3 linked regions of the Homo sapiens genome follow. The protein of the gene in region 1 interacts with the protein of each later gene in a pairwise test. Each region holds a gene or a part of one and is shown in the gene's direction. Other genes may lie near its edges. The genes, in order: NUFIP1, ZNHIT6 and NOP58.

Region 1 (8,180 bases):
AGCGTGAGCCACTGCACCCAGCCTAATCTTAGCACTTTGAGAGGCAGAGGCAAGAGGATTGCTTGAGCCCAGGAGTTTGAGACCTGCCTGGGCAACAAAGTGAGACCCCCGTCTCTACAAAAAAAATAAAATTAGCCAGGCGTGGTGGAATGCCTGTGGTCCTAGAAGCATGGGAGGCTGAGGCAGGAGGATTCCTTGAGCCCAGGAAGTCGAGGCTACTTTATCAACTAAGTTTATATAATATTATAAATCCTTTGTTGTCATTTCAACAGTGTTCACAGCATCTTCACCAGGAGTAGATTCCTTCTCAAAAAAGCACTTTCTTTCCTCATCCATAAGAAGCCACTTCTCATCCATTAAAGGTTTACCATGAGATTGCAGCAAGTCACATCTTGTGGCTCCACTTCTTTTTTTTTTTTTTTTTTTGAGATGGAGTCTTGCTCTGTTGCCCAGGCTGGAGTGCAGTGGCTCGATCTTGGCTCATTGCAAGCTCTGCCTCCCAGGTTCACGCCGTTCTCCTGCCTCAGCCTCCCTAGTAGCTGGGACTACAGGCGCCCACCACCACGCCCGGCTGATTTTTTTGTATTTTTAGTAGAGATGGGGTTTCACCATGTTAGCCAGGATGGTCTCGATCGCCTGACCTCGTGATCCACCCACCTCAGCCTCCCAAAGTGTTGGGATTATAGGCGTGAGCCACTGCGCCTGGCCCCTCCACTTCTAATTGTAGTTCTCTTGCAGTTTCTACTACATCTGAGGTGACTTCCTCCACTGAAGTCTTGAATTCCTCAAAATCGTCTATGAGGGTTGGAATTTCTTCTTTCAAACTCCTGTTAATGTTGATCTTTTGACCTCCTTCCATAAATCATGAATGTTCTTAATGGTATCTTGAATAGTGAATCAAAACCTCCTTTCTAGAAGGTTTTTAATCTACTTTGCTCAGATCCATTAGAGGAATCACTATCTATGAATCACTGTGGATTTCTTTCAAGAACTTTTCATCCAGACACGGTGGCTCACGACTGTAATCCCAGCACTTCAGGAGGGCAGAGCAGGAGGATCCCTTGAGCCCAGGAGTTTGAGGCTGCAATGAGCTATGACTGCACCTTTATATTCCAGCCTGGCTGACAGTGAGACCCTTTCTCAGTAGTTGCATTCACAACTTGGCTAGCCGTTTGGCACAAGAGGCCTGGCTTTTGGCTTGTATCAGCTTTCAACGTGTCTTCCTCACTAAGCTTAATCATTTCTGGCTTTCGATTTAAAATGAGAGACATGTGACTCTTCCTTTTGCTTGAACACTTAGAGACCATGATAGGGTTATTAATTGGCCTACTTTTGAATATTGCGTCTCAGAGGATAGGGAGGCCTGAGGAGAGGGAGAGGAGAACCACCGGTTGGTAGAGCAGTTAGAACATACACAGCATTTATAAAGTTCACCATCTTATATGGCCACGATTCATGGTGTCTCAAAACAATTACAGTAGTAGCATCAAAGATCACTGATCACAGATCAGTATAACAGACGTAATAAAAATGAAAAAGTTTGAAATATTTCGAGAATCACCAAAATGTGACACAAAGACAGCACATTGTTGTTGGAAAAATGGTGCTGATAGACCTGCTTGATGTAGGGTTGCCGCAGACCCTTAGCTTGCAAAAAGCTGTGTAAAACGAAGTGCAGTGAAATGAGATGTGCTTTTATACCTTAAAGGTGGGGACTGCATGATTTACTGAAAGATAGGATATATGGGATGCAAGATAAAGAGGAGAGAAGGATAATTTAAAGTTTTTTTGCCAAACAATTGGAAGGATGGAGTTGCTATTAACTGAGATAGGTAAGAATGTGGATGGAGCAGATTTGGAAGGAAGTCCAGGAATTAAAGTTGGAATATATTTGTGTCAGGTAGAGATATTGAATAGGCTTTTAGCTATTAGTCTACTTTCAGGGGAGATTTGTGGCTGGAGCTATAAATTTGGGTGTTGACACCATATAGATCATATTTCAAGCTACAAGAGTGTTAATTTAAAACCATTCTCCAACTTTGCAGAAAATTCAATTCTGCATTCCATAAAAAATGATGAGTTCATATCCTTTGTAGGGACATGGATGAAATTGGAAGTCATCATTCTCAGTAAACTATTGCAAGGACAGAAAACCAAACACCACATGTTCTCTCTCATAGATGGGAATTGAACAATGAGAACACATGGACACAGGAAGGAGAACATCACACTCTGGGGACTGTTGTGGGGTGGGGGGAACGGGGAGGTATAGCATTAGGAGATATACCTAATGCTAAATGACGAGTTAATGGGTGCAGCACACCAGTATGGCACATGTATACATATGTAACTAACCTGCACATTGTGCACACGTACCCTAAAACTTAAAGTATAATAATAAAAAAAAATTCAATTCTGCATTAAACTGAATCTGAACAATTAGTGTTTTATTTTTATTTTATTTTATTTATTTTTTTAAATAGAGTCTCTTGCTGTCACCCAGGCTAGAGTACAGTGGCACCATCTCGGCTCACTGCAGCCTCCACCTCCTGGGTTCAAGGGATCCTTCTGCCTCAGCCTCCTGAGTAGCTGGGACTACAGGCACGCACTACCACACCTGGCTAATTTTTTGTATTTTTGGTAGAGACTGGGTTTCACCATGTTGGCCAGGCTGGTCTCGAGCTCCTGACCTCAAGTGATCTGCTTGCCTTGGCCTCCCAAAGCACTGGGAATACAGGAATGAGCCATCACACCTGGCCCAAACAGTTAGTGTTTATTGTATGGCAGATGCTGGAAATACGGACTTGGCTGAGTCAGATGAGATATGTTATAAGTATGAATCAAAATACAGTGTGACTGATGATAGAGGCATATAATAGCTGATTTCAGAATGTAGAGGAAATTGGGAAAAGCTTTTGGAAGAAGTGTCTTAGGAGATGTATAGAATTTGGGAAGAGATGTTTCCTAGGTAGAGAAAGAGGTGTCAGTACAAGGCAAGTTCTGGAGATTGCAGGGTTCTGGTGTGACTGAAGCAGAGTATGTGAAAGGTATGGGGAAGGGTAGGGTAAGAAAATAAATTAGAATCTCATGGAAGGTCTCTAGGAAGCTGTCTTAGTCCCTATTGTGCTGCCATAACAGAGTATGACCTGTTGGGTAATATATAATGAACAGAAATTTATTTGGCTCATAGTTCTTGAGGTTATGTCCAAGATCAAGGGGCTGTTGAGGACCTTCTTGCTGCATGGTGACATCAAGAAAGGCATCACATGGTGAGAGAGAGTGAGAGAAGGTCAAACTCATCCTTTATTATTGTTGCTTTTTGAGACAGGGTCTTGTTCTGTGGCCCAGGCTGGAGTGCAGTGGCACATATATGGCTCACTGCAGCCTCAACCTGCTGGGCTCAAGTGATTCTCCCATCTCAGCCTCACAAGTAGCTGGGACTACAGGCACATACCACCAAGCTTGGCTAATTTTTGTATTTTTTGTAGAGACAGAGTTTCGCCAGGCTGCTCAGGCTGATCTCAAACTCTTGGGCTCAAGTGGTCTGCCCGCCTTGGCCTCCCAAAGTGTTGGAATTATAGATGTGAGCCATCATGCCAGCCCCTCCCTCAACTTTTTTTTTTTTTTTATTTGAGACGGGGGGCTGGGTGCGGTGGCTCACGCCTGTAATCCCAGCACTTTGGGAGGCCGAGGCAGGTGGATCACTTGAGGTCAGGAGTTCGAGACCAGCCTGGCCAACATGGTGAAACTCTGTCTCTACTAAAAAATACGAAAATTACCTGAGCATGGTGGCACATGCCTGTAATCCCAGCTACTCGGGAGGCTGAGGCAGGAGAATCGCTTGAACCTGGGAAGCAGAGGTTGCAGTGAGCCAAGATTGTGCCACTGCACTCTAGGCTGGCCAACAAGAGCGAAACTGCATCTCCCCCGCCAAAAAAAATAAAATAAAATAAGAGACAGGGTCAGCTGGGCATGGTGGCTCACGCTTGCAGTCCCAGGACTTTGGAGGCTGAGGCAGGCAGATCGGTTGAGCCCAGGAGTGTGAGATCAGCCTGGGCAACATAGTGAGACCCCATCTCTATACAAAGAATAATTTTTTTAAAAGAGACAGAGACAGGGTCTTGTGCTGTTGCCTAGACTGGAGTGTAGTGGCATGATCATAGCTTACTGCAGCCTCAAACTCCTGAACTCAAGTGATCCTCCCACCTCAGCCTCCACAGTAGCTAGGACTACAGGTGCATGCCATCATGCCAAGCTAATTTTTAAATTTTTTTGTAGAGATGGGGTCATGTGAGGTTACCCAGGCTGGTCATGAACTCCTGGCCTTGAGTAGTTCTCCTGTCTCAGCCTCCCAAAGTGCTAGGATTATAGGCATGAGCCACCACGCCTGGTCCATATGCAAATTTTTGAGCCAGGTTGTGACAGGATTGGAGAATTTTTTTTTTTTTTTGGTGTCAGTATGTAAGGTTTGTTGGAAGAGGGGGCTTATGAACTGGAAGACAATATAGGAGTAATCTGGTGGAAGATCAGAATTTCTGACTTGGGGCATGGTAATAAGAATGGAAAAGTACAGTGGGATTTGAGAGGAGATATATTTCACAAGGTTCTGTTTTCCTGGTGCGAAATTGATGCTGAAGGAGCAGTGTTGGGGATTTTACTGGTTACATTTCTAATATTTGAAATAACCGAAGGAATTTCATCAGGTTAGGTTGTCCATTTCTGCACTTTGACGCCTAAAGTTTCTGTGGACATATAATCACACCAGTCTTTCTTTGTTTGAAAAATAGTCATTTGGTAGACTAATCTTAATCTTTGTTATTTTGTTTGAACTAGTATTCTTCCTAGAAGGGTAGTTTACTAGTGTTTTTACTGAAATATTTGTAACATGCTGTAGTAGATAAAATTTAATTATAATTTAAATAATTACATTGTTGCAAACATTTATGGATCTTTTTTTTTTTAGTTAAAAATTCTTATTATCCACGAAAGTATGATGCAAAATTCACAGACTTCAGCTTACCTCCCAGTAGAAAACAGAAAAAAAAGGTATTTGAAAGATGTTCTTGAATTTGACCCCTTGGTCCCTATGTTACTGTTTCATATCTTGCATTTCTGTCATAACTGTCTTCAGTGTTTTGCTTCCATTATTGACACAGTGGAGCCTTGCTATAAAAAGGAATTTTATGGTTAAACATGAATATAGCAAATTGGGATTCAAAAATAATACATAACTAAATTTTTGTTTCTTTTCTGTGGTTTTAGAAATAGATATATATTTGATACTTTTATTTTACCTTATTTTTTTTTAGATGGAGTTTCACTCTGTCGCCCAGGCTGGAGTGCAGTGGTACGATCTTGGCTCACTGCAACCTCCGCCTCCTGGGTTCAAGCAATTCTCCTGCCTCAGCCTCCCAGAGTAGCTGGGACTGCAGGTGCGCACCACCACACCTGGCTAATTTTTGTAGTTTTAGTAGAGTTGGGGTTTTACTGTGTTGGCCAGGCTGGTCTCGAACTCCTGACCTCAAGTGACCCGCCCACCTCCGCCTCCCAAAGTGCTGGGATTAAGGCGTGAGCCACCATGCCTGGCCATATAGTTGATACTTGAACAACGCAACAGTTAGAGGTGCAGTCAGAAGTTTGTGTGTAACTTTTGACTCCTCTAAAACTTAACTACTAATGGTCTACTATTGACTGGAAGTCTTACCAATAACATAAATAGTCGGTTAGTATAGAAATGAAATGGTGTCCACATATATTTTATACCTTCTTGACATACTTTTTTTTTTGATATTTCTAAGGCTATGTGGTTTATCTGTGAGTTTTTCCAAATTGTCACAAATCTCCAAAAAAATTTTCCAATATATTTACTGAAAAAAATCCTTTTATAAGTGGACCCTTGCAGTTCAAACCTGTGTTGTTCAAGGGTCAGCTGTAGTTATTTTTTTCTAAAAGATGAGCTGCTGTTTTTATTCTATTTATTTTCAGATCATTTCAACATATTCTGTACTGAGTCTTAATTAGATAACCAATTTGCAATCTGCTCATAATTTATATTAGCACTATTTGGATTAAAAAAGTTTAAAATTATGCCTGGGTTTCACTAATATATTTGTTAAAAACAAAATGAAAGAAAGAAATAGAATAATCTCTTCATTGGAAATATACTCACAAGCTTCTCCCACACGAAAGGGTTATTGGAAACATCAAAGTGTGTATTACTAGAATGATAGTTATGTTTTTATTATTGATTACAGATTTTTCACCAAAAGCCTAATTCCTCTCTGTTTTTGTTTGCAGAAAAGAAAGGAACCAGTTTTTCACTTTTTTTGTGATACCTGTGATCGTGGTTTTAAAAATCAAGAAAAGTATGACAAACACATGTCTGAACATACAAAAGTAGGTTTTCTTAGTTGTCCTGAAACTGATGTAGCAATTGTGCTTCTTCTATCTGTATATTTGGTAGAAATGCCAAGCTTGTTTTCCTTTAAAGTTTATAGTTTCTGTAGAGATATAGTTTGACAACTTGACAGATAGGGGCAGTGACCCTGGGGTTTGAAAGTGGGGATCCCGCTGCTTCAGGGACGAGGTAAGATGGTAGCAAAGAAGGGAGCTCTGACAGCTTTTTGTATGTGTGTACCTCTACTGCTTGGGAAGAGGCTGTCCTCTCCTCTAGTTACCTTGTGCATCTTAATGAGTTCTTTCCCCTTTAAGTCTGCCCTTGACCATTAAACCATACTGTGTAATGTGGCTGTGCCTATCACCCTCAAAGGCTGGTCCACACCTTGTCAGGTACTAGCTAGAAAACTTTAACCAAAATGTTTAAAAGGTTTAAAAGGAAGCCTTTGGTTTTGAAAGGTTCTTTTTCTGTTTTTGGGAATGCCCCTCAACTTTAGGAATTAAGAGCATTTCACAGGTTTATTGATGTATGCCTTTGCTCAAATGGAGAAGTAAATAAGATATATTATTGTGCCACATACTCTGAGAGTGTCATTCCTTTGCCTAAAGGCAGCCCTGTTTTGGAGTCATTTTTGTATGCAGAGATAATACTATACAGATGGGATAACTATGTAATACAGCCAGAATATGTCTGTGTATGTATAGTGGGGTAAATTTAACATGGAAAACATTTGTTAAATAGTTTTTTTTTTCTTTTAAAAACTCATAGTGCCCTGAATTAGATTGCTCTTTTACTGCACACGAGAAGATTGTCCAGTTCCATTGGAGAAATGTAAGTTCTGTTTTTTTATCCTATTTTTAAATACATGCTCTTTTTATTGATCTGTTATCTTCACAACTGTTTATTTATATACCTAATAATAGGTAACACTAATGGAGTACTTTGTAAGGATTTTGACATCATTTATTCAACTTTTTCCTCACAAACAACTATGGTTGTTTATATTGGCCCCATTTAAAATATTTTAAAAAATGAATTGCCCAAGGCCTGAGAATTGATTCTTGGACCTCAGTTTCTTGACTCCAAATTGTATACTGCTTTACTACACCATGCTGCTACAGATTGTCACGTCTACTCATATCTTTAGTGGCCTCTCTAGGTTTTGATTGGTAAGTCATTCATTTGGGTGTTTAATGTCATTTGAGAGAATGGGTGGCATATCTACTTTGTAATCAAAATTATGTTACCCCTTTTCCCTCTATTAATAGCACTAATTAAATACATGATAGATTCTTCTTCCTTTAAAGGAAAAGTTATAACACAAATAGATACAACCTGCTTACTTGGTTTTAAAATTGTGTCCAACATAAGTTTACTTGTAGAAACAAAGTCTCCAAGTTAGTCAAAAGCATATGATATTGCCTCCTGATGTTCAGCAGGCTTTTTCCCCCTAGATGCATGCTCCTGGCATGAAGAAGATCAAGTTAGACACTCCAGAGGAAATTGCACGGTGGAGGGAAGAAAGAAGGAAGTGAGTAGAGTTCAGAACTGGTGAAATAACTGTTTTACTGTGACAAGGCTTATTAATGTAGTTAAATTCATTGAATTCCCTTAGAATGTTGGAACTAGGGAAGAGGACCATAAGGCATATTATGTAAGACTATTATTGAACGTAGTTTTAGGAAGACCTAATAAGAACTCTTCATTTAAGTAGCAAATGTGTCATAATGGGACTGTATGTTGCTCTTTGAGGGGGGCTACTGCATGTCACCTGTCAGATGTT
Region 2 (8,900 bases), on another chromosome or scaffold:
ATAGAATCTCTGATTGTTCCCTTTTCTACCCTACATTAGCTTGGGTGGATCGTGGCCCACCTCAACTCAAGATGCTTATAAAAACACAAAGTTAGCCCAGCAAGTGTCCAAGGAGGCAGAAGAACACCAGGAAAGCTGATAACTGTGTATACCAGTTGGTTTAGAACAGTTGTCTTCTTCCCTCCACCCAAAAGTCTAGATGATTACCCAGAAGACAGCAGCTCTTGGAAATGGGATGGCAATGTGGGAGTACTGGAAGTTAACCTGAGAGGCGTATGCTCTTCATAGGAGGGCAGACTGGGGCTAGTGCAGCCCAGATTGTAACACCAGAGGCTTTCTACCATGATGCTCATCCACTCTTCTGCTTACCCTCCACACTGAAAAGAATAACCAGAAGAGTTGCAATCCAAATCCTATGCTTTTGATCCTACCTTTCAAATATGAATTACAACTATGCTTGCTAATACTCTCAAAGGAATAGGAGCTCACCAGAGAAAATATTATAAAATCTGGACTGTAATTCTAAAAGATTTTTTTAAGCTGGATAATTTATACTGGAGGGACAGAATTAATGGACAAAAAACTGAAGATTTTTAAAAGAGTCAAAAGTCGGGCATGGTGGCTCACGCCTGTAATCCCAGCACTTTGGGAGGCCAAGGTGGGTGGATCACCTGAGGTCAGGAGTTCAACACCAGCCTGGCTAATATGGCAAAACCCTGTCTCTACTAAAAATACAAAAATTATCTGGGTATGGTGGTGGGCACCTGTAATCCCAGCTACTGGGGAGGCTGAGGCAGGAGAATCACTTGAACCTGGGAGGCGGAGGTTGCAGTGAGCCAAGATAGCACCATTGCCCTCCAGACTGGACAACCAGAGCGAGACTCCATCTCAAAAAAATAAATAAATAAAACGAGTTAAAGGACTACCTTCAGAGAGATAAAAAGGGATATTAGAAATATGAAGCAAAATAAGCTACAGACAATGGTTATGAAAAACATAGTGACTGAAATGAGCTTAGTGGATAGGTTGACTAACAGATTGCATACCATCAAATACCAAAATAGTAAGGTAGAAATTACTTGGGGAACTCTCCCAGAAAGTATCTGGAAGCAATAAAGAGATGGGAAACATAAAAGTTAAAAGGTATGCAGAAAACTCTGATAACAAAACCTAACATTACAAGAAAAAAGAACTACAGATAAATAAACATCCTTCATAGACGAAAACTCCTAAACAAAATGTAAGTTAATTGAATACAATTATATAGAGATATTATAAAACATTTGAGTTTATTAAGGTTGCAGGATATGAAATCAAAATACAAAAATCAATTGTATTTCTGCAACCTAGCAATGAAAAATCCAAAATGAAATTAAATGAGTAATTTCATTCAAAATCACATCAAGGCCAGGTGTGGTGGCTCACGCCTGTAATTTCAGCACTTTGAGAAGCTGAGGTGGGCGGATCCCTTGAGCCCAGGAGTTTGAGACCATCCTGGGCAACATGGCAAAACCCCATCTCTACAAAAAATACCAAAAAAAATTTAGCTGGGCATGGTGGCATGCGCCTGTGGTCCCAGCTACTTGGGAGGTTGAGGTGGGAGAATAGCTTCAACTCAGGAGGTCGAGGCTGCAGTGAGCCATGATTTTGCCACTGTACTCCAGCCTGGGTGACAGAGGGAGACCCTGTGTCAATTTAAAAAAAAACAAAAACCACATCAAGAATAAAATGCTTAGGAATAAATTTAGCAAAAGATATGTAAAAACTTGTACACTGAAAACTACAAAGCATTGTTAAGTGAAGTTAAAGACAATATAAATAAATGGATGGCATTCCGTTTTCATGGATAAGACACAATGTTGTTAAGATGACAATCCTCCCCTCACTTATCTATATATTCCACACAATCCCTATGAAAATCCCACAAGTTCTTTTGTAGAAATTGACAAGCTGGCACTAAATACACAGAGATGCAAACAACCAAGAATAGCCAACACAATTTTCAAAAGAAAAGAAAGTTGGACTTACTATAAAGTTATAATAGAGTATGGTATTTGTGTAAGGATAGACATATAGATCAGTAAAACAGAATATAAGGTCCAGAAATAAATCTTTATCTTTGTGGTCAATTGATTTTTTTAAATATCAAGGCAATTCAAGGAAAAAGAATAGGCTTCAACAACTGGTGCTTGGACAATAAGATATCCATATTAAAAAAAAGAAACTTAAACCATTACCTTGTCCACCTTATGGATGATATCCTTAGTTCTGCCACATGTGGGTTCCACCAACCATGGATCAAATTTCCACAGCTGGTGGAACCTACAGATGTGGAACCATGGATGCAGATGGCAGATTGTAGGACTTGAGCGTTCTCAGATCTGTGGTGGTCCTGGAACCAATCCCCACAGAAACAGAGGGATGACTCTAGATACAAAAGCCAACTCAAAATGGATCACAGACCTAAATGTAAAAGCTAAAACTATAAAACTTCTAGAAAATATAGGAGAAATATCTCTTTGCAACCTTGGGCTAGGCAAAAAGTTATTAGTGTGACACAAAAAGCACCATTCATTTAAAAATTGAGAGGCTGGGTGCAGTGGCTCACTCCTGTAATCCCAGCACTTTGGGAGGTGGGTGGATTACCTGAGGTCAGGAGTTCGAGACCAGCCTGGCCAACATGGTGAAACTCCATCTCTAATAAAAATACAAAAATAATTAGTCAGGTGTGGTGGCACCTGCCTGTAGTCCCAGCTACTCGGGAGGCTGAGGCAGGAGAATCACTTGAACCCAGAAGGCGGAGGTTGCAGTGAGCAGAGATCCCGCCATTGCACTCCAGCCTGGGTGACAAGAGCGAGACTCCATCACAAAAAATAAAAATAAAAATTGATAAACTGGATTTAATTGAAGTGTAAAATTTTTGCTCTTTTAAAGATACAACTAAGAAAAGGAAAAGCCACAAACTGGGAGAAAATATTTGCGAACCATACAAGGAATTGGTATTAATTATGCATTGCTTTGTATCAATTATCCAGAAATTTGGCAGTTTAAAACAAGAAACATTTATCCCCTCCCACAATTTCTGAGTGTCCGGAATCTGGGTTCAGTTGTTGGCCAGAGCCGCAGTCATGTAAAGCTGGACTAAGACTAGAGAATCTTCCTCCAAACACATTCATATGCTATTGACAGGCTGAAATTCCTTGCTGATTGTTGGCCAGTGCATTCGTTTGCCAAGGCCACTATAATGAACTAGCATAGACTGAGTGACTTAAATTTATTTTCTCACAGTTCTAGACGCTAGAACTCCAAAATAAGTTGTCACCAGTCTTGTTTTTTTCTGAGGCCTCTCTCGCTGGCATGCAGGTGGCCACCTCACTGTATCATCGTATAGTCTTTTCTCTCTGCAGGCATCCCTCGTGTCTCTTTTTGTGTCCAAATTTCCTCTTCTTATAAAGATATCAGTCAGATTGGATTAGGGCCGACCTTAATGGTCTCATTTTAACGAAATCACCTTTAAAGGTCCTATCTCCAAATATACTCACAGTCTAAGGTACTGGGTGTTACGGATTTAACACACGAATTTGAGGGGACACAATTCAGCCTGTAAGAGCCAGTAACTTCGGCCCACTACCACATGGGCCTCTTGGTACTCACAACCTGGCAGCTTGCTTCCCCCAGAGTGAATGATCTAGGAAGGAGACCAAAAAAGCAAGAGCCTAAGGCAGAAACCACAGCCTTTCTCCAAACCTAATCTTAGAGGTAACGTATTACTTCTGCTGTATGCTATCAGTGACACAGACCAATCCTGGGATGATGCAGGAGCAGTCTACACATTGGTCTGAACACTGTGGGGGTGGAGAATCACTGGGGAACATACTGGTGCTTGTCTACCACAAACCTATATCCATAATATATGAAGAACTACTACAATTTGATAATAAAAGACGTCAATTAAAAATGGGCAAAAGATCTGAATAAACATTTCATTAAAGAAAATATCCAAATGGCCAGTTGGCAGATGAAAAGATGTTCAACATCATTAGTCATTAAAGAAATGTAAATTCTCAATGACGTACCCCTACACATCTATAATCAAATAACTGATAATACTAAGAATTGGCCGGGATGTAGAGAAATAGGAACCCTCAGCCAGTAGGAATGTAAAATGGTATAGCTACTTTGGAAAACAGTTTGGGCATTTCTTTAAAAATTAACATAAATTTATATGGCCCAGCAATTCCACTCCTAGTTATTTACTTAACGGGAAATGTAAACATGTCCACACAAAGACTTGCATATGAATGTGGAAGCAGAATTATTCGTAATAGCCCAAACTGGAAACAAGCCAAATGCCCACCAACTGGTACATGCATGAAAAAACGTGCCACATTCATACAATGCAATGTTATTCAGCAATACCGGGCATTAGGCACTTTCGCCTAATATATTTATGATGTTCTCTGAGAGAATCCTGCAGAATGCTGGGAATGGGGAATAGCCTGACGCAGGCTGTTACTTAGAAAGAATGGAAAGAAAAATTAATGCCCTCTTTCCTACTTGAAACCCATCATGATTCCCAGTTATACACTGAGTTTGTGTCTGTCACTGACAGTTGATTCCTATGCATGATCTCATATTATCTTCGCAATGACACTGGGAGATTTATATTAATAATACCATGCTCCCTAGTTTATAGCTTCAAGAAACTAAAGCTTGCAAAGGTGTAACATCAGGTGTGTCCTTTTTCATACAAGATTGGATTTAATGGTTAACACAGATAAGGGTGGGTTTTCCCATTTCCAGAGTGTAAGGGTTTCGCTTCTCTCCCTCTGCCGGTCTCCTCCACTGTTTACACCCAGTAGGGCGTGGAGGGTGGCCTAGGGTGTGGCCCAGGAGGCTTCCCTAAGGGAAGGGGGTGGTGGAAACCAGGCGGTTTGAAGCCCATCAGGATTCCCAGTTATATATCGAGTTTGTGTCCGTCACTGCTAGTTGATTTCCATGCATGATCTCATATAATCTTTGCAATGACACTGGGAGATTTATATTAATAATACCATGGTCCCTAGTTTATAGCTTTAAGAAACTAAAGCTTGGAAAGGCCTAATAACATCAGGTGTGTCCTCCATTTTCATGCAAGATTGGATTTAATGGTTAACACAGATTAGGGTGGGTTTTCCCACTTCCAGAGTGTAAGGGTTTCGCTTCTCTCCCTCTGCCGGTCTCCTACACTCTTTACACCCAGCAGGGCGTGGAGGGTGGCCCAGGGAGTGGCCCAGGAGGCTTCTCTAAGGGAAGAGGGTGGTGGAAACCAGGAAGGAGACGAGAACCCCAGCGGGCAAGTCACGCAGTTACGCTTGTTCGCCCAGAGAATCCGGCAGGGCCTCCGCAGAGCCGTAAAGAGCTCTACAAGTCGTGAAGGGGCGAGGCGCAAAAGCGTAGCTTTACGGCGATTCGAGCAGTCGCGTCAAGCAGGCTATTCCGGGTTTGTGGCTGCTTGGCTCCACACGTGGGCCGCCGTAGGTATTCCGACCGGTAATTCCTCCTATTGGTGTGCAGCAGCCACATTGAAGGATAGAGTGGCAGCAGAGGCCAAGGATCGTGAGTTGATGGAGTTTGCTGCTGAAAATGAAGGGAAGTCTGGGGGAGGTCTCCACAGCGTAGCTGAGGGGGTGCGGCTAAGTCCAGAGCCTGGCAGGGAGGGAGTAAGGGACTTAGCAGGGGCGGAGGAGTTCGGCGGCGGAGAGGAGGGGACAGGGCTGACAGGGATAAAGGAGATAGGGGATGGAGAGGAAGGAAGTGGACAAAGGCCAGAGGAAATACCGATGGACCTAACGGTAGTGAAGCAGGAAATTATAGACTGGCCAGGTACAGAAGGCAGGTTGGCTGGCCAGTGGGTAGAACAGGAGGTGGAGGATAGGCCTGAGGTGAAGGATGAGAACGCAGGCGTATTGGAGGTGAAGCAGGAGACGGATAGTAGTTTAGTGGTAAAAGAAGCGAAGGTGGGTGAACCAGAGGTAAAGGAAGAGAAGGTAAAGGAAGAGGTAATGGACTGGTCAGAAGTGAAGGAAGAGAAGGATAACTTGGAGATAAAACAGGAGGAGAAGTTTGTTGGTCAATGCATAAAAGAGGAATTGATGCATGGAGAGTGTGTAAAAGAAGAGAAGGATTTCCTGAAGAAAGAAATCGTGGATGATACAAAGGTGAAAGAAGAGCCTCCGATAAATCACCCGGTGGGCTGCAAGCGGAAACTGGCCATGTCAAGGTAGGGCATGGGGGATTCCATTTAGGGGAATAAAGCTGTGGAGTCCTCATGTCTAGAGTGAAGGAAACCACACTATCAGGAGAAGGTGGAATAATGAAAAATGAGCACAAGTTTGGGTTTCTGGAGTCAGACGGCGTTCGCGGGGGTGGGTTGGGAAGTGGAGGGTGTTGTACATGACAACACAACAAATTCAGTGAAAATACATGAAATTAGTAGTGTCCAATGGGTAATGGTCAAGTTAGGAAAGTGGAAATTCTGGGGACCAAAAGATCAGTTGGAACTGGATCTGGCTTGACTTAATATGCTCTTTACTCGGTATTCCTTTGAGAGAGAATAGAGATGAGAAAGTCTAATAAAACTAACAATGACAAAGTAGATTAAGTTAAAACTAGGCAAAAATACACTTGACCTCAATTATCAAGCTTCTTCATGGGTGCTGTGAATATTTATTGCTTTTGATTGAATTTCCTTAGTGTGTGGATCATGTGACAAAGGAAATAAGAGTAGTCAGATTCTTGAGAATATTCCCGTCTAGAACACAGTGGGCTAAATAGAAGTAACTGTAGTTTGGTTGTCAGTATCCCAGGAGCATAGAAGAGCAGTTGAGGACAGATGATGGGTTACATGGCATTTCTAGATTATTTCGATGCTCATTCTAGATTAGGCGTGGAGTTCAGGAAAAAGGGTGCTACTACTACTCTCTAAATTTCACTTGGCCTTATATTCTTTGTCTGGTGTGTGCTTTAAAAATATCTAAACATAGCTCATGAATTGGACTTCTGGATACACACACATACAATCATTACCACATTTCCAGGAATCACAAGTTAAAATATCAGTGAATAATCTCATTCCCTGATTATAGTAGAAAAAGAAGTCAAAAGCGAGATGGGTTTTAAAAATTTTAATACATTTTCCTGAGTTACATATCACTAACAACATTGGAAATGTAGTTGTTTTGGGAAGGTTTCATAGAGAAGAATTTTCAAATGATGTTCAACAGCTATCAAATATTTTATCAGTTACTTGTCACTGAGTTTATAAATTGATTGGGAATTCTAAGTTTATAAATAAATACAATTAATATTTGATAATTTAATGTTACATGTGGGCTTTTGTAGGTGTGAGACTTGTGGTACAGAAGAAGCAAAGTACAGATGTCCACGTTGTATGCGATATTCCTGCAGGTATACATGTAACTTCCTACCTTTTAACCTGTATCTGTACCTTTCTTACCCTAAAATATAAAAGTACTTCCCCTTTGTCTTTTCAGTTTGCCCTGTGTAAAGAAACACAAAGCAGAACTGACATGTAATGGAGTTCGAGATAAAACTGCATACATTTCAATACAACAGTTTACTGAAATGAATCTCCTAAGTGGTAAGCCACTTTATGCATAGCAAATTGAGGCTTCCTGGCCATTGGTATATGTCACTTGTTTATTCTTCTGTTTTGAAATTTTTAGATTATCGATTTTTGGAAGATGTGGCAAGAACAGCGGACCATATTTCTAGAGATGCTTTTTTGAAGAGACCAATAAGCAATAAATATGTAAGATTTTTTCCTAATTTCTTCCAGTTAGAAGTCCTTCAAATCAATTAGATTCTTTTTTTTTTTTTAACTTACCAAATATATTAAGTGGCTACCATGATGTAGAGCTATTCTGATTACTTAAGGATATGGCTGTGACCCAAACAAAGTCCGTCCCCTCGTGGAGTTGTATTTAGTGGGAGATATAGGAGATAAGTAGAGGAACAAATGTAATTTCAGATAGAGTTAAGTTCATATAGAAAATAAAGAAGGCTCAAGAGATTAAAGAGAGAATGAAAATGGTCTTTGTTGGGGAGAGATTGTCAGGGTACTATTTTCGATACAGTGGTCAGGAGAAGCTTCTCAAAGAGATGATGTGTAAGCAGTGATCTGAGTGCTGAGAAAGAGGCTGTCATGTGAACATTTGGAGGCAGATTATCCCAGGTAGGGACAAAAGTAAAAGGAAAGACCTGAGTCAGAAACAAGGATGTCTGGTTTGAGGAATTAAAAGATTTGCAAGGTAACTGAAGCATAGTGAGTGAGGAGGAGAGTATTGAAAATGAAGTTAGAGAAACTGGTGAGGAGTTGGGTGCAGTGGCTCATGCCTGTAATCCAAACACTTTGGGAGGCTGAGGCCAGAGCATTCCTTGAGCTCAGGAGTTCAAGACCAGCCTGGGCAACATGGTGAAAACCCGTCTCTATAAAACAATACAAAAATTAGCCAGGCGTGGTGGCGTGCCCCTGTACTCCCAGCAACTTGAGAAGCTGAGGTGGGAGGATCACCAGAGCCCAGGAAGGTCAAGGCTGCAGTGAGCCATGATTGCGCCACTACACTCCAGCCTGGGCAACAGAGTGAGACTCTGTCTCAAAAGAAAAAAGAAAAGAAACTGGTGAGGGTTTCTAATTCTAAGTGCAAATGGAAACCATGGAAGGGTTTTGAACATAAATTTGCCTTTTGAAAAACCACTCTTGCACTTTGTGAACTTTAGCGGGGCAAGAATGGAAGATTGGAAGCAGGGAGACCAATTATGCAGCTCTTCCCATGATCCTTGTGAGATAATAGTGGCTTGGGTGTACTGTTTGAATTATTGGGAAGGGATTAGATTGC
Region 3 (8,162 bases), on another chromosome or scaffold:
GAGGCTGACGCAGGAGAATTGATTGAACCCAGGAGGCAGAGGTTGCGGTGAGCCGGAGATCGCGCCATTGCACTCCAGCCTGGGCAACAAGAGCGAAACTCCATCTCAAAAAAAAAAAAAAAAAAAAGAATGCCTGGCACAGGCTGGGTGCAGTGGCTCACGCCTGTAATCCAGCACTTTGGGAGGCCGAGGTGGGTGGATCACGAGGTCAGGAGTTTGAGACCAGCCTGACCAACATGGTGAAACCCCGTCTCTACTAAAAATGCAAAAATTAGCCGGGTGTGGAAGTGCGCACCTGTATAGTCCCAGCTACTCAGGAGGCTAAGGCAGGAGAATTCCTGAACCCGGGAGGTGGAGGTTGCAGTGAGTGCTGAAATCCTACCATTGCACTCCAGCCTGGGCAACAGAGTGAGACTCCATCTCAAAAAAAAAAAAAAAAAAAGAATGCCTGGCACAGAGTAGACACTCAAATATTTGTTGAATACATAAAAGATATTCACCACCCAGAACATCCCCTTCTTGTTACCAGGCACATGGAAGGTGTCTGACCAAAATGGTGTCTTTGGCTAATCTCATTAGGTTCCAAAAAGTCCCTGGAGGCTCTACTAGCACCTTGAAATTATCCCACCATTCACTCATTCCATTCATCCATTCATTTACTTAGTTACTAGTCATGTTTATGGAATCTCTACTACGTGCCAGATACTAGCCTAGTACTTGCAGATTTTGCAACTAACTTTTATAGAGTTTATATTCTAGTTGGAACAGGGGTGGAGTTGGGGTGTACAGAGAGGACAGACGAACCATGTTTCTCATCCTTGTTATTTCACCATGTTAGCCACCAGTAAAATTGTAAGCCCTGGCCGGGCGCAGTTGTTCACACCTGTAATCCCAGCACTGTGGGAGGCCAAGGTGGGCAGATCATCTGAGGCCAGGAGTTCGAGACCAGCCTGACCAACATGGAGAAACCCTGTCTCTACTAAAAATACAAAATTAGCTGGGCGTGGTGGCACATACCTGTAATCCCAGCTACTCGGAAGGCTAAGGCAGAAGAATCGCTTGAACCCGGGAAGCAGGGGTTGCGGTGAGCTGAGATCATGCCATTGCACTCCAGCCTGGGCAACAAGAGCGAAACTCTGTCTCAAAAAAAAAAAAAAATTGTAAGCCCTTCTATCATCTGTACTCTCCTATATTCTCCTTCTTATATTTCTTTGTGCTATCTCCCCTTCACTCAGTACTTTAACAAAGTACTAAGACTCTTACTTCTCCCTTGCAAGAGAAAATCTCCAATTACTGGCCGGGAGCAGTGGCTCATGCCTGTAATCCCAGCACTTTGGGAGGCCGAGGTGGGTGGATCATGAGGTCAGGAGTTCAAGACCAGCCTGGCCAACATGGTGAAACCCCATCTCTACTAAAAATACAAAAATTAGCAGGGTGTGGTGGCAGGGGCCTATAATCCCAGCTACCCAGGAGGCAGAGGCAGAAAATTGCTTGAACCCAAGAGACAGAGGTTGCAGTGAGCCAAGATCATGCCACTACACTCCAGCCTGGGCAGCAGAGCAAGACTGCATCTCAAAAAAAAAAAAAAGAAAGAAAGAAAATCTCCAATTACTTTATTTGGTCAAGTTACAAACCCAAAATCAGAGTCAGCTCTGAACTCCTGATTAAAGCATCATATGGAGGTGACTATGTAAATGGTAACGTGCAAGGACAAATTCTAGGACATACCATGGCAAAGAGATTTCTCATTGAATAAGTGGTTTCATTTCATTTTGGGAATAGGATTTAAGGCTTTACACGTAAAGAAAAGAATTTTTACTTCCTGCAGACATTCATTCATTAAATTTTTAAGAATTAATTAGATTCTATTTCATGAGTAGCACAACATAACATCCTATACAGACACAAATATGTGTAAAGTAGACTCAATTCTCTAGCAGATGTCACTTCTGCTAAGGAGACTAGACAGAAAAATACTGTGCAGTTAAATAACACTATAAACAGACATGGTGTTTCTAACATCTCACCCACCCACGCATACCCCTCTCCCAATCAGGTAATTTTCGTCTCTCTTGTCTCCCTGACCACACTGGATTACAGCTGTAACTATAATCAACCATGCTTTTTTTCTTTTTTGAGACAGGGTCTTGCTTAGTAGCCCAGGCTGGAGTGTAATGGTGAGATCATAGCAGGCGTGAACCATACACTCGGCCAATTATGCTCTTGAATTCACCCTAGGCCGGGCGTGGTAGCTCATGCCTGTAATCCCAGCACTTCGGGGGGCTGAGGCAGGCGGATCACCTGAGGTCAGGAGTTCAAGACCAGCCTGGCCAACATGGGGAAACCCCGTCTCTACTAAAAATACAAAAACTAGTTGGGCATGGTGGCGTGTGTCTGTAATCCCAGCTACTGGGGAGGCTGAGGCAGGAGAATCACTTGAGCCCAAGAGGCAGAGGCTTCAGTGAGCTGAGATCGTGACTGAGATCGCGACACTGCGCTCCAGCCCTGGCGACAGACTGAGACTCCGTTTCAAAAAAAAAAAAAAAAAAAGAATTCACCCTAGATTCCTCTGTCCTGTGACTTTCTGTTATTCAACCCAGGATTTTCTTTCCTCTTAATCTCAGGTTGCAGAGTTGCTACCTATTTAATGTTCCACAATCTTGAGCAGGTTGCAATTTTTTTTTTTAGATGGAGTCTCGCTGTGTCGCCTAGGCTGGAGTGCAGTAGTGCCACCTCGGCTCACTGCACCCTCCGCCTCCTGGGTTCAAGCAATTCTCCCAGCAGGTTGCAATTTAATGATTAGGAACAATCTGCATATAGGGCCTGGGAAGTGAGTAAGGAAATTTTACCCCTGTTGGAAGACAGACTTGTGAAACAACTGGGGTATTTAATCCCAGTCCCTGAGACTGAAAGGCTTCCAGAAAAGCAAGTAACACTAAATCAAGAAGACAGTCTAAATTCAGCCCCGCACAGTGGCTCATGCCTGTAATCCCAGCACTTTGGGAAGCCGAGGTGGGTGGATCACCTGAGGTCAGGAGTTCGAGACAAGCCTGACCATCATGGAGGAACCCCATCTCTACTAAAAATACAAAATTAGCCAGGCGTGGTGGTACATGCCTGTAATCCCAGCTACTCGGGAGGCTGAGGCAGGAGAATTGCTTGAACCCGGGAGGCAGAGGTTGCAGTAAGCAGAGATCATACCACTGCACTCCAGCCTAGGCAACAAGAGTGAAACTCCGTCTCAAAAAAAACAAAGAAGAAAAAGAAAAAAAAAAAGACATTCTAAATTCATACCCTGGGGTCATTTTAACAAATGCAGCAAAAATAGGAGAGGCTTATTGAAAGAAAACTGTGCTAATAATTCATTTGGCCAGACAGAAGGGAACGGCCAGGAATGCTCACAAATATAGTGACAGTAATGGTGTCATTCTGAGGCCTTCGCCTCAAGGCAGGGCTTGAAAGGGGATAAAGTCTAATGGCACTAGCTGGCATTTCAAATTCTAGATGCCTGAGGCAGACTGGCACCGAAACAGCTCCTCGTTTCTCTCAAAGTGAACATATAATTCATAGAGGGTTAACAAAATAATATCGTGAAGTTTTTCCCCTTTAAATCTCTAGCGGTGGCGGGGCGCGGTGGCTCACGCCTGTAATCCCAGCACTTTGGGAGGCCGAGGTGGGAGGATCCCTTGAGGTCAAGAGTCCGAGACCAGCCTGGGCAACATCGTGAAACCCTGTCTCTACAAAAAATTAGCTGGGTGTGGTGGCACAGGCCTGTAGTCCCAGCTGCTCCGGAGGGTGAAGTGGGAGGATCGCTTGAGCCTGGGAGTTGGAGGTTGCAGTGAGCCGTGATAGTGCCACTGCACTCCAGCTTGGGCAACAGCCAGACTGTCTCAAAAAAAAAAAAAAAAAAAAAAAAAAAAAAAAAAAAGGCCGGGCCTAGTGGGTCACGCCTGTAATCCCAGCACTTTGGGAGGCCGAGGCGGGCGTATCACGAGGTCAAGAGATCGAGACTATCCTGGCCAACATGCTGAAACCCCATCTCTACTAAAAATACAAAAATTAGCTGGGCGTGGTGGTGTGTGCCTCTAGTCCCAGCTACTGGGGAGGCTGAGGCAGGAGAATTTCTTTTTTTTTTTTTTTTTTTGAGACGGAGTCTCGCTCTGTCGCCCAGGCTGGAGTGCAGTGGCAGGATCTTGGTTCACTGCAAGCTCCGCCCCCTGGGTTCAGGCCATTCTCCTGCCTCAGCCTCCCGAGTAGCTGGGACTACAGGCGCCTGCAACCACACCCGGCTAATTTTTTGTATTTTTAGTAGAGACGGAGTTTCACCGTGTTAGCCAGGATGGTCTCGATCGATCTCCTGACCTTGTGATCCGCCCGCCTCGGCCTCCCAAAGTGCTGGGATTACAGGCGTGAGCCACTGCGCCCGGCTAGGAGAATTTCTTGAACCCGGGAGGCGGAGGTTGCAGTAAGCCGAGATCACACCACTGCACTCCAGCCTGGGTTACAGAGCGAGACTCCGTCTCCAAAAAAGAAAAAAAGAAAAAAGAAAAAAAGGCGCAAAGGCTCCGTTCAGGCCCTAGATCCCGCGATACAAACTTTCTCGGCCCGCCCCAGCCCGCTGTGGCGGGAACATTCTGGAAGTGACGGCAATCTCTGCGGCAGTCTTCTGTCGGAAGTGACGTTGCTATCCCAGAATCCTCAGAGAAGGAGTAGCGCGTTCGTGCGTCCTAGTTCCAGTACAGCGTGGAGGGTTTAGGCAGCGTGTTCTGATTCTTTGCGGGACGGCGAGCGCATTTGTGCTTTGCCCGCCGCGGCCTAGGAGGCCTTTTGAGGCCGCGTAGTCGGTGTTTTTGAACTGACTCTACAGCTTCTGGCAGGCCGTGCGGCGCCCTGACCCGGCCTCACCATGTTGGTGCTGTTTGAAACGTCTGTGGGTTACGCCATCTTTAAGGTAGGTGGGAGAGCGAGCCGTTAAAGGGGGAAGGCGGATGCTGGACAGACGAGGAGAGGGAAAGACTTAAGCACGGAACTACTCAGAGTAGCGTGGGTGCCTGTTATAGCCCGGGCTCTGGGAGGAGGGAGAAGGCCTTTACACCTGAGAGCCATGTTACGTGTAACACGTGGCCCCGCCGTTTGGGGAGACCCGTTCTGCATTAGAGGATTTTATTTCCTCCCGTTGAAGGGGTGGGCAGGAGGCGTGTTAGAATTTAACAGATTATAGGGAATTCGGACTTTATTCTAGATGTTTTGAGGAATGATCGAAAGATTTTTTTTTTTTTTGAGATGGAGTTTCGCTCTTGTTGCCCATGCTGGAGTGCAGTGGCGCAATCTTGGCTCACTGCAACCTCCGTCTCCCGGGTTCAAGCGATTCTCCTGCCTTGGCCTCCCGAGTAGCTGGGATTACAGGCCTCCATCCACCACCACGCCTGGCTAGTTGTTTTTGTTTGTTTGTTTGCTTTTAGTAGAGACGGGGTTTCACCATGTTGGCCAGGCTGGTCTTGAACTCCTGACCTCAAGCGATCCACCTGCCTCGGCCTCCCAAAGTGCTGGGATTACAGGCGTGAGCCACCGTGCTCGGCCAATCGAAAGGATTTAAGCAGAGGAATGACCTGCTAATTTGTCTTAATACGGTTACTCTGCTGTGTGGAGATTAGACTCGAGGAGATAAGAACGGCAGCAAGAATACTTTTGCATTCATTTGGACAAGATGAAATTGCCTGGTATGGAGAGAAACAAATATCGATAGAAATTGTGAAGGTAGAACAGGAAGGACTGGCTAATAGATTGAATGTGGGGTTTTGGTTTAAATAAGATGTTAAGAAAGTTTCTTGGGGAAGGACTAAAGATTTCCGGTTTGGGCTGTGCGAAGCTTGCGTTGTCTATTAGACCTGATAATGCAGTTGTGTAGATCGGGCAGTTCAGTATTTCAGATTTGAAGCTTAGGGGAAAACATCTGGGCTGGTGATGTCAGTTTGAGGTTTGGTTGTTTTCGTGGGGAAAGTTTGACAAGTTCGTCAGCACTGAAATGGTTGAATGGTAAGACATTCGTATCGCAAGATGCTGTTGAGATGTTAGGAAGAATGAGTGAGATTGAGTGCCTTTTCTTGTGCGGTGCAACTCTTCTGAGGTCTGTGAATATAGCAATGAAAAATAAAGTTTTTATGTATATTCTACATATATATATGTTGGTAGAAAGCAAAAACGCTAGGTAAAAATAAATGTAATACAATTTTAGCTATGAACCAAAAAACCATTTGTGGTGTGGATGCAAGAAAGTCTGGATGGGTGCAGAGTTCTCCATGTTTCACTTCTGACATTTGAAAATACGCAGTTTGCATTTGATACGTCAAATGTTATTTTTAAGAAAACCAATAAAATCATTAAAACCGAAAAGGCAGTTTTGCTTGTTTTTACCTTAGTTGGAGTTATCTGCAATTGCCGTATTAGTGTTTTAAGGAACTTGTAAGTAAGCTCCTTAGTCCCCTTTAGAGCTACGAAACATGTCAATTTTACTTTTCTCCAGCTTTTTGGAATCTTATCTAAATTACCATGTAGAGTTCTGCATAGCTTCAAATTCTCTTAGCCAATGTGGTCTGTAAGTGTCTATCGATGAATTTCACCGTTAATTGCCGTAGTATACTGTCCTGTACCGGATGTGAAGAGGAGCAACTCTGCACAGTGCACTGGTTGTCTCCCATGGTAGGAAGGAATTGGCTTATCAATGGTCGGATTTCTAGACCTGGGTCCTAAAATACTCAACCGTGTCTCGATGAATTACTGATTTCTATTAATGAAAAGTGTCCTCCTCCATGAAAATGTCTTTGAGTATTCCGTTGGAGTTTGCAGTGCTATTTATCTGCAAGTTACTGTTCAAAATGATTAAATTGTGGTTTATGTAACCTAGTACTAAAGAAATAACTAGTTAAGCTCGAATATGTTGACATTGATTAGTTTGTAATTATTGGAATTAACATTGATCGTTTCTGAGTATAAAAGACATACAAACGTTCTGGAACTAGTGATGGCTGCACATTTTTGTGAAAATGCACTACTAAAAAGTGAATTGTACACTTTAAAAGGGCAAATATTAAGATACATGTAAAATTAATATGATATATGGTGAATTTTATCTCCTAAAAAAGTAGACATACGGTTCAAAGTTATTAGTTTCCTTTCCCATAATCTTTCAAAATGCTAGGGTATAAAATTATGTTGGTTGCCAGGCATGGTGGCTCATGCCTGTAATCCCAGCACTTTGGGAGGCCGAGGCCGGCGGATCACAAGGTCAGGAGTTTGAGACCAGCCTAACCAACATGGTGAAACCCCGTCTCTACTAAAAAAATAGAAAAATTAGCTGGGCGTGGTGGTGTGCGCCTGTAATCTCAGCTACTTGGGAGGCTGAGGCGGGAGCATTGCTTGAACCCGGGAGGCGGAGGTTGTGGTGAGCTGAGATCGTGCCATTGCACTCCAGCCTGGGCAATAAGAGCACAACTCCGTCTCAAAAAAAAAAATTATATTGGATGCATATAATTCATGCTTTGATGAGAATGCTTTAGGAAGTTTTTTGAAGTTTTTTGTTTTTTTGTTTTTTTTGAGACGGAGTTTCACTCTTGTTGCCCAGGCTGGAGTGCAATGGCGCGATCTTGGCTCACCACAACCTCTGCCTCCCAGGATCAAGCAATTCTCCTGCCTCAGCCTCCCGAGTAGCTGGGATTACCAGCATGCACCACCACGCCCAGCTAATTTTGTATGTTTAGTAGTGACAGGGTTTCTCCATGTTGAGGCTGGTCTCGAACTCCTGACCTCAGGTGATCTGCCCGCCTCAGCCTCCCAAAGTGCTGGGATTACAGGCGTGAGCCACTGCACCTGGCCTTGAAGTTTTTTTTAAACTTCCATTTACAGTGAGGAAAACATTTTATGTATAACCCATGTACACATACAAATTCATGTTTATGTATTTAAAATTTATTTTGAGGCAGGGTCTTGCTCTGTCACCCAGGCTGGGGTGCAGTGGCAGGATCATGGCTCATTGCAGCCTTGGCCTCCTGGGTCAAGTGATCCTCCCACCTCCTCCCGAGTAGCTGGGACTACAGGCTCAAGCCACCATGCCTGGCTAATTATTTATTTATTTGTATTTGTATTTATTTATTTTTTGAGATGGA

What was found.
Region 2: the proteins of NUFIP1 (region 1) and ZNHIT6 interact in binary tests that used the Homo sapiens proteins (3 or more experiments, as listed by UniProt).
Region 3: the proteins of NUFIP1 (region 1) and NOP58 interact in binary tests that used the Homo sapiens proteins (3 or more experiments, as listed by UniProt).

Annotation. Positions count from the first base shown.
Region 1 is NC_000013.11:44,978,938-44,987,117, reverse strand, and holds part of NUFIP1 (FMR1-interacting protein NUFIP1), read left to right. Parts: intron 1-4,963; coding exon 4,964-5,046; intron 5,047-6,297; coding exon 6,298-6,396; intron 6,397-7,165; coding exon 7,166-7,228; intron 7,229-7,851; coding exon 7,852-7,928; intron 7,929-8,180. UniProt on the Homo sapiens protein: Binds RNA.
Region 2 is NC_000001.11:85,704,991-85,713,890, reverse strand, and holds the start of ZNHIT6 (box C/D snoRNA protein 1), read left to right. Parts: upstream 1-5,457; 5' UTR 5,458-5,606; coding exon 5,607-6,262; intron 6,263-7,383; coding exon 7,384-7,449; intron 7,450-7,535; coding exon 7,536-7,642; intron 7,643-7,727; coding exon 7,728-7,813; intron 7,814-8,900. UniProt on the Homo sapiens protein: Required for box C/D snoRNAs accumulation involved in snoRNA processing, snoRNA transport to the nucleolus and ribosome biogenesis.
Region 3 is NC_000002.12:202,261,036-202,269,197, forward strand, and holds the start of NOP58 (nucleolar protein 58), read left to right. Parts: upstream 1-4,727; 5' UTR 4,728-4,906; coding exon 4,907-4,951; intron 4,952-8,162. UniProt on the Homo sapiens protein: Required for the biogenesis of box C/D snoRNAs such as U3, U8 and U14 snoRNAs. Part of the small subunit (SSU) processome, first precursor of the small eukaryotic ribosomal subunit.